2 separate regions of the Homo sapiens genome follow, and region 1 is linked to region 2. The links come from fine-mapping of genetic effects on gene expression. Tissue or cell type: whole blood. Region 2 holds a variant in brackets; the other region holds the start of a gene. All regions are shown on one strand. Distances are between the middles of the regions.

The links. PIP is the estimated chance that this variant, and not a neighbour inherited with it, causes the effect.
Region 1: it holds the start of EXTL3, and the variant in region 2 is fine-mapped to the expression of EXTL3 in whole blood (TOPMed, PIP above 0.99).

Annotation. Positions count from the first base shown.
Region 1 is chr8:28,699,252-28,703,417 of GRCh38, reverse strand. It overlaps EXTL3 (exostosin like glycosyltransferase 3), which reads right to left and starts at 1,917. Exons shown (of 7, transcript NM_001440.4): 1 at 1,759-1,917. It overlaps EXTL3-AS1 (EXTL3 antisense RNA 1), which reads left to right and starts at 1,954. Exons shown (of 3, transcript NR_126027.1): 1 at 1,954-2,058; 2 at 3,375-3,977. RefSeq lists silencers at 1,349-1,758, 1,859-1,928, 1,999-2,178.
Region 2 is chr8:28,758,421-28,762,586 of GRCh38, reverse strand. No RefSeq gene overlaps it. Among named protein-coding and RNA genes, the nearest start is that of EXTL3, 59 kb to the right of the region's middle. The variant AT/T (reference allele first, on the strand shown) is at 2,443.

The DNA.
Region 1 (4,166 bases), 59 kb after region 2:
TACTTCTCTCCAAACTGTTCCCTTAAAATCTTTTTACTCCGAGGTCAAAACTCTTGAGGCCTAATCACTGAAAGATCCCAACTACACACCAAGTATTAACAGGGTTTTCCCCCACTAGAAAAGCGAGAAGTGGAGGGATACAGACATACGCCTGTCAATCATTTTTTAGGTAGGTATGCCCCTCACATCTCTGGACATTAAGCACGTTTCCGGAAGTCTGAAGAGCCACAATTCTGACTCTTCCAGAAAGCACTTAGGCTCGATTCTCTCTTGCTCGTGAGTTCTTATGATTCCTCCGGCTCCCCACAAGCAAACGAATGGGAAATTCCCACAGGATAAGGTATTTTTAACACATCAAATAACAGTTTAAGAAAACGGTTTTTCTTTCATCACAAAATATTTCAAAGTCCCTCTGCTAAATAGCAAGTCGCTGAGAAGGCTTCGCTTCGCTCCAGACTCTGTGCCCCGCAGTTACTATCCCAGCACACAGGTCACAGCGATAGTCACTGTATCAGAATGCAGGACTCACTGCCGAACAAAATACAGAAAACTGCAGAGTCTGCATGGCTGCAACACACAAAGCCTTTAAAAACAAAAGAAAGCACGGGGAGCTCTGCCAGTAAAAATGAAGCTACCTAAATTGGACAAAGAATAGGACAAAGTGACAAGAAATGCTAAAGACGACTCTTAAGTAAATCACATATGGGGGAAATAATGGACATGTTGTGGTGTTCTGCGCTTCCTCCTCCACCAAAGGAGTCGAACCAAGAGGACTTGATGAAGCTTTTAGAGTTTTTAAAAAGGGAAGAAAAATCCAGGTTGCGGGGAAGGGCGGGGGTGGGGTGGTGCGGGTGGCGGGGGAGGGGCAAAATCCACAAAATTTAAGTCTTCTGAGAGCCAAACAGATTTTATTAATAAAAGGAGCCGAAGCTCTCGCTCAATGTGGGGAAGAGAAAGCAGCACCCATCAGCAGCCGGGCAGCCCTGGCTCGCCTCCGAGGGGCTCGGAATAGGTGCTGTCCCCGTCGCTGGGCTCGGAGCTCCGCCGCGCACACACGCCCCGCGCACCCCTGTCCGGTCCAGCCCGTGCAGCGCGAGGCCGGCTCTAGGGGAGCTGGGCCTGGGAGCCAGGGTCCTGCAGCACCTGGACCCTCGGACAGGAAGCGGCTCCTCTGACTGTGGCTCCTGAAAGGAGGCGAGCCCGGCAAAAAGAGCCAGCGGGGAGGGCAGCAGGCGACTGCGTGTAGAAGCGGGGGGCAGATGTGGGAAGGTGTGCTCGGGAAGGGGTGGGGGTAGTCCGGAGCTGCGCCTCCGCCGACAGAAGATGCTCCGGGCCAGCAGCCAGAGAAACGCCGCGGGTCACAGAGGGTGGAGGGCTTCAGGGAGCAGAGGAAGCCCAACAGCTGCAGCCGAGCGTCCAAAAAAAGGTGGAGGCGGGTCCCGAGCAGCCCAAACTGGGACGAGAGAGGGCGTGTGGGGGCGGGGAGGGGGTGCCCCAGCCCAGGGACCCGTTAGCCCTCCCGGCTGCCGGCCGAGGGCCTGGCGGCCTCTCCCCGGGCCCCCGAGCCACCGGGCAGGCCTACTCCGCTCGGAGGCTGCATGCCTCCCGCCGCCGGGCAGCAGCAGCCTCCCCGGGGCACGGCGGACCCGGTCCCTCCCGCCGCGTCCCCAGCGCTCGGGGCCAGCCCCGGCACCCTCCCATGAGCCCTTCCGGGCGCGGCCCCCGCTCCTCGGGCTCACGCGCGGCCAGCAGTCCTACCGGCTTCCAGCTCAGGGACCCGCCGCCGCCGCCGCCGCCGCCTGCGCGAAAGTCGGCGTCCCAGAAGCCGTTCTGGCTGCCGGCCGCCCGCCTTCCAGGCCGCGCCTGATCCGCCGCTCCCCCTGCCGGCCGGCAGCCATTTCCGACAGGCGACTGCGGAACTTGCCGAAGGGCGCCGCGCCGGAAATGGCCGAAGCCGGCGTTCGCGAGCGGGGGCGCGGACGCGGGCGCGCGCTCGCCACTTTCCCGACCGCGTCCGAAGACCGCCGAGGCCTCCCGCAGCTCCGCGGTGACACCCGGGTCAGGGGCGCGGGGCCGGGCGCCGGGGATTGTGGGAGGCGCGGGGGGGCGCGCCGGCCGCCTTCGGAGCCCCCCAACTCGCGTCCTGCAAAGGCCGCCGGGCCCTGTCGAGAAGACCCGACCGCAGATGGCGGGGAGGATGCTCCCGGCGGCGTGGGAACCGGGTCTGACTCCCGAGCCACCGCCGCTTCCGCAGGGGCGCCGGCCCCGGGAAAGTCAAGTCATAAATCCCTGAATCTAAAACTCCATTCTCAGAGAAAAGGCCTCCAAGGACGGGCGCCGTGCGCGGCAACTGCCTGCAGTTTTGAAGCCCTTTGACTATTTCATAACAAAGACAAGGCCGGGCGGCTTGGACGCTTAGGAAAATCCTGGGGCTTTGCAAAAACAACAGGTTAATCTAGTCGTGTGGGATGATCACCAAAACAAGACAGGAAAGAAGAACACCGTGTCAATGCTGAAAAGCCAGCCCCTGTGAGCCCCAAAGTGCACGTTTTCCACAGTCCCAAGGAACACGTGACTGTGTGTTTCCACACTTGAGAAGTCAGGATAAGACCCCTTGGATAATGGAACAGGGGATGGGGGTGGGAGCAAGCACCCTACCTGGTCACCTGCTTAACTTAGAAACCAGCTTTTAAAACCTGTAACTGCAGTATGAGCTACGATCAAATTTGTCTTAACGTATTTTTTTTAATGTTTTTAATACCCAGAACACAGGGCTTCTACTCCAGGGTTTCCTCGCCAGGGAACCCCAAACACACAGGACCTGGAGAAGCCGGGTAGAGCTGGCTCCTGGCCCTGCGCTTGGGTGGTCGGCTGCCTTAAGAAGAACTGCACCCCAGAGACAGGCTCGCAGCTGCCGACCTTATCCACTCGCCCTTTCTGCTGGAGCCCAGGCCCAGTGCTCCAGCAAGGAGGCTGAGAAAATGCTGAAGACTGATGCCCACGGGGGACAGCTTGGGCTAAGGATAACGTTTGCAAAACAAACCTTTAAAAACCCATAGCAACCTGTTTCCTAGAGCACACTCTTCATCTCTCCACCCCCAAACTAGTCCCGACTCGGATCCTCCTTTTCCTATCCTCTTTCTCTTGCTCTCCCGTCTCCTATTCACTTTTCTTCTCCTTTCCTCTTGATTATTATAAACAAATGCTTTCCAAGTCTTACCGCCATCATATGTGTACATATGCAACCCTTACTGTTACCAATTTGTTGAAGTCAAGACAGGAGGAGGCAAAGTTTAAAAATCAGAAGTATTGCAGGAAATGAAAATGGAGTGAGTGTTGCCTGGGTATCATAATTTTTTTTTTTTTTTTAACAGTTCCTCTACTTGGCTCTCCTCCAAAGGTACGCGGCCACAGCAGGCAGGGGCTTGGCAGTGTGGGAGGAGACACCACAGAAGACAGGGAAGAACTACCAGGCCTTGGTTCATCTCCACACTGGCGAGAGAGGACGTGCAGTTACCTGCTACCTGTTCGACTCAGTCTTTTACGTTGGAGTAACTTAACACATTGCTGCCCTTAACTTTGACTTACTTGCTTTTAAAGATGATGAAGCTGGCCAGGCGCCGTGACTCATACCTATAATCCCAGCATTTTGGGAGGCCCAGGCAGGTGGATCACGAGGTCAGCAGTTCAAGACCAGCCTGGCCAACATGGTGAAACCCTGTCTCTACCAAAAATACAAAAATTAGCTGGGCGTGGTGGCGCGTGCCTATAATCCCAGCTACTCAGGAGGCTGAGGCAGGAGAATCACTTGAACCCGGGAGGCAGAGGTTGCAGGGAGCCGAGATCGCACCACTGCACTCCAGCCTGGGCAATAGAGCAAGTCTCCATCTAGGGAACAACAACAACAAAAAGATTATGAAGCCTTAGGAAGAACAGGGATATTCACCTGCTGCTGAGCCCCCCTCCGCTTTGATCTTGTGAGTCTGCACTCTCCTGCTCCCCTGTCTCAGTCTCCTCTAGCTCCTGTTCCTTCTCCTACCTTGTGTTCTCTGCCAATGATATGACTGGGGCTACTTTCTTTTTTCCTTCTCACACTCTCTTCTTGCTAATTTCAACCAATTTCCCTGCATCATCTCCACCTGCAAGCTGGTCCTTTACAGCAGAGC
Region 2 (4,166 bases):
GATCTAAATTTTTACCTTAGAAGACTATAAAAAGAGCCAAATAAACCCAAAGAAAGTAGAGGAAAGAAATCATAAAAATAAGCAAAACATGAGCAAAACAGAACAGAGAAAACTAACAAAGCCAAAAGCTGATTTTTTAAAACATCAGCAGAACTGATACACACCTCATTAGACTGATCAAGGAAAGACAGGACCGACTGCCCATATGGGCAGTGAAAAAACTTTGGTTATCACTACAGATCCTACGGATATGAAGAAGACAGCCAATCAGAAAGGAAAGGGGGGTATTACTAAAGAGCCTACAAATATTAAAGGGATAAAAAGAACACCAACTTATGCCAACAGATTTACCACCACAGATAAAATGGAAAATTTCCTTTGAAGACACAAATAGACAAAGCTCATTCAATAAGAAAAAGAACTTGATATTCACTTAAGAAATTAAATTTATTATCTTCTCACAAGGAAAACTCCAGGCCTAGATGGTTTCCCTGGGAAACTATCAAACATTTAAGGAAGAAATAACACCAATCTTGTATAACCTCTATCAAAAAGAGGAAGGGGGAATATTCCAGTCCCTTTTAAGGGGCCAGCATAACTCTAATACCAAAACCTTATAAAGTCATTACCAAAAAAGAAAATGAGAGGTAAATATCTCTCATGAACATCAATGCAAAAAAAAAAAAAAAAAAAACTTACCAGCAACCTGAATCCAGCAATACACAAATAGGATAATATGACATGACCAAGTAGGGTTTATCCCTGGAATGCAAGGATAATTAAATATTTGAAAGCCAATCTAATTTATAATAGAATAGAGGATCATTTCGATAGATACAGGAAAAAAGCATTTGATGAAATTCTCTAACAGCACTCAGCAGACAGGAATAAAAGGGAACATACTCAACCTGATAAAGGTTATGTATGAAAAACTTAACAGCTCAGTGAAATACTAGAGCTTTTCCCCAAATATTGAGAGCAAAGCAAGGTGCCGATCCATACTACTGTTCTATAGTGTTCTCGGAGTCCCAGTCATTGCAATAAGGCAAAATTGAAGAGGAAAAGGCAGGCAGGCATACAAACAGATAAAGCATAAAGGTAGGAAAGAAGTAAAACTGTTTTCAGATGAGACTTTTTACATAGAAAGTTCTAAGAAATCTAGAAAACTACTGGAATAAGCTCACAAGACTGCAAAATACAAGGTTAGTATCCAAAAGTCAACTGTATTTTATATATTAACAAGTTTTTGAGAGAGAGTCTTACTTTGTCACCCAGGCTGAAGTGCAGTGGCACAGTCATGGCTCACTGCAGCCTTAAACTCTCAGGGTCAAGTGATACTCCCACCTCAGTTTCCTGAGTAGCTGGGATCACAGGCACATGCCACTGCATCCAGCTAATTTTTTTTTTCTTTTTACTTTTATAGAGACCCACCTTGGCTTCCCAAAGTGCTCGGATTACAGGTGTGAGGCACAACACCTGGCCAGAAATAAAATGTTTTTAAAACAGCAACTTCATTCATAATAGTGTGAGATAACTTTTGAAAAGATATGTAAGATCTCTACACTAAAAGTCTCAAAACCTTGCTGATAAAAATTAACGATTTGAATAAATGGAGAAATATGCCATATTGATGGATTAGAATACTCAATACTAACATTTTAATTCTGCCTATTGATTTATGGATTTGATGCAATACCATCCCAGCAGACAGCCACACCACAACCTAACCCAATGTTTTAAGTAGGTAAAGGACTTGAATAAACATTTTTCCAAAGATGATACACAGATGGCCAATAGCACATAAAGAGATATTCAACACTGGTCATTAGGGAAATGAAAATCAAACCCATGACCAGGTACCACTTCACACCTACTAGGATGGCTGTACCATTTTTTTAAATTTTTATCAGAAAGTAAGTGTTGGGAGAAGTGGAGAAATTGGAACCTTCATACGCTGCTAGTGGAATGTAAAATGACACAGCCGCTACGGAAGACGGTTTGGCAGTTCCTCAAAAAGTTAAATACAGAATTACCATATTGTCCAGCAACTCCACTCCTCTATAGATACCCAAAAGAATTGAGAGCAGGGACTCAAATATTTGGCCACCTATGTTCTTAGCAATATTATTCACCACCTTAGTAACCAAAAGATGGATGCAACCCAAGTATCCACCAACAGATAAACAGATAAAACAAAATGTGGAACATACACACAATGAAATATTATCCACTCATAGAAAAGAATGAGATTCTGATACATGCTGCAACGGGTGAACCTTGAAAACATGCTAAGTGAAATAAGCCAGACACAAAAGACCACATATTTTATGATTTCATTTATATTCAAATATCCAGAATAGATGAATCCATAGAGAGAGAATAGAGGTTATCAGAGGCTGGAAGTAGTGGGGGAATGGGAAGTTACTGTTTAATGAGTACAGA[AT/T]TTGTTCGCAATGAAACAGTTTTGTAACTAGCTAGTGGTGAGGGTTACACAACATTGTGAATATACTTAATGGAACTAAATTGTACACTTCAAAATGGCTAACATGGCAAATTTTATGTTTAAATTTTTTTAATCTGATAATGCCAGGTTTCTTAGAAGAGACTGGGCAGTATTGAGATGAATTTTATGTAAGCATAAGAGCTAATGTACAAAAATCACAAGCATTCTTATACACCAATAACAGAGAGCCAAATGATGAGTTGAATGCTCATTCACAATTGCTTCAAAGAGAATAAAATACCTAGGAATCCAACTTACAAGGGACGTGAAGGACCTCTTCAAGGAGAACTACAAACCACTGCTCAATGAAATAAAAGAGGATACAAACAAATGGAAGAACATTCCATGCTCATGGGTAGGAAGAATCAATATCATGCAAATGGCCATACTGCCCAAGGTAATTTATAGATTCAATGCCATCCCCATCAAGCTACCAATGACTTTCTTCACAGAATTGGAAAAAACTACTTTAAAGTTCATATGGAACCAAAAAAGAGCCCACATTGCCAAGTCAATCCTAAGCCAAAAGAACAAAGCTGGAGGCATCACGCTACCTGACTTCAAACTATACTACAAGGCTACAGTAACCAAAACAGCATGGTACTGGTACCAAAACAGAGATATAGACCAATGGAACAGAACAGAGCCCTCAGAAATAACACCGCATATCTACAACTATCTGATCTTTGACAAACCTGAGAAAAACAAGCAATGGGGAAAGGATTCCCTATTTAATAAATGGTGCTGGGAAAACTGGCTAGCCACATGTAGAAAGCTGAAACTGGATCCCTTCCTTACACCTTATACAAAAATTAATTCAAGATGGATTAAAGACTTAAACGTTAGACCTAAAACCATAAAAACCCTAGAAGAAAACCTAGGCATTACCCTTCAGGACATAGGCATGGGCAAGGACTTCATGTCTAAAACACCAAAAGCAATGGCAACAAAAGCCAAAATTGACAAATGGGATCTAATTAAACTAAAGAGCTTCTGCACAGCAAAAGAAACTACCATCAGAGTGAACAGGCAACCTACAAAATGGGAGAAAATTTTCGCAACCTACTCATCTGACAAAGGGCTAATATCCAGAATCTACAATGAACTCAAACAAATTTACAAGAAAAAAACAACCCCATCAAAAAGTGGGCCAAGGACGTGAACAGACACTTCTCAAAAGAAGACATTTATGCAGCCAAAAAACACATGAAAAAATGCTCACCATCACTGGCCATCAGAGAAATGCAAATGAAAACTACAATGAGATACCATCTCACACCAGTTAGAATGGCAATCATTAAAAAGTCAGGAAACAACAGGTGCTGGAGAGGATGTGCAGAAATAGGAACACTTTTTACACTGTTGGTGGGACTGTAAACTAGTTCAACCATTGTGGAAATCAGTGTGGTGATTCCTCAGGGATCTAGAACTAGAAATACCATTTGACCCAGCCATCCCATTACTGGGTATATACCCAAAGGACTATAAATCATGCTGCTATAAGGACACACGCACACGTATGTTTATTCCGGCACTATTCACAATAGCAAAGACTTGGAACCAACCCAAATGTCCAACAATGATAGACTGGATTAAGAAAATGTGGCACATATACACCATGGAATACTATGCAGCCATAAAAAATGATGAGTTCATGTCCTTT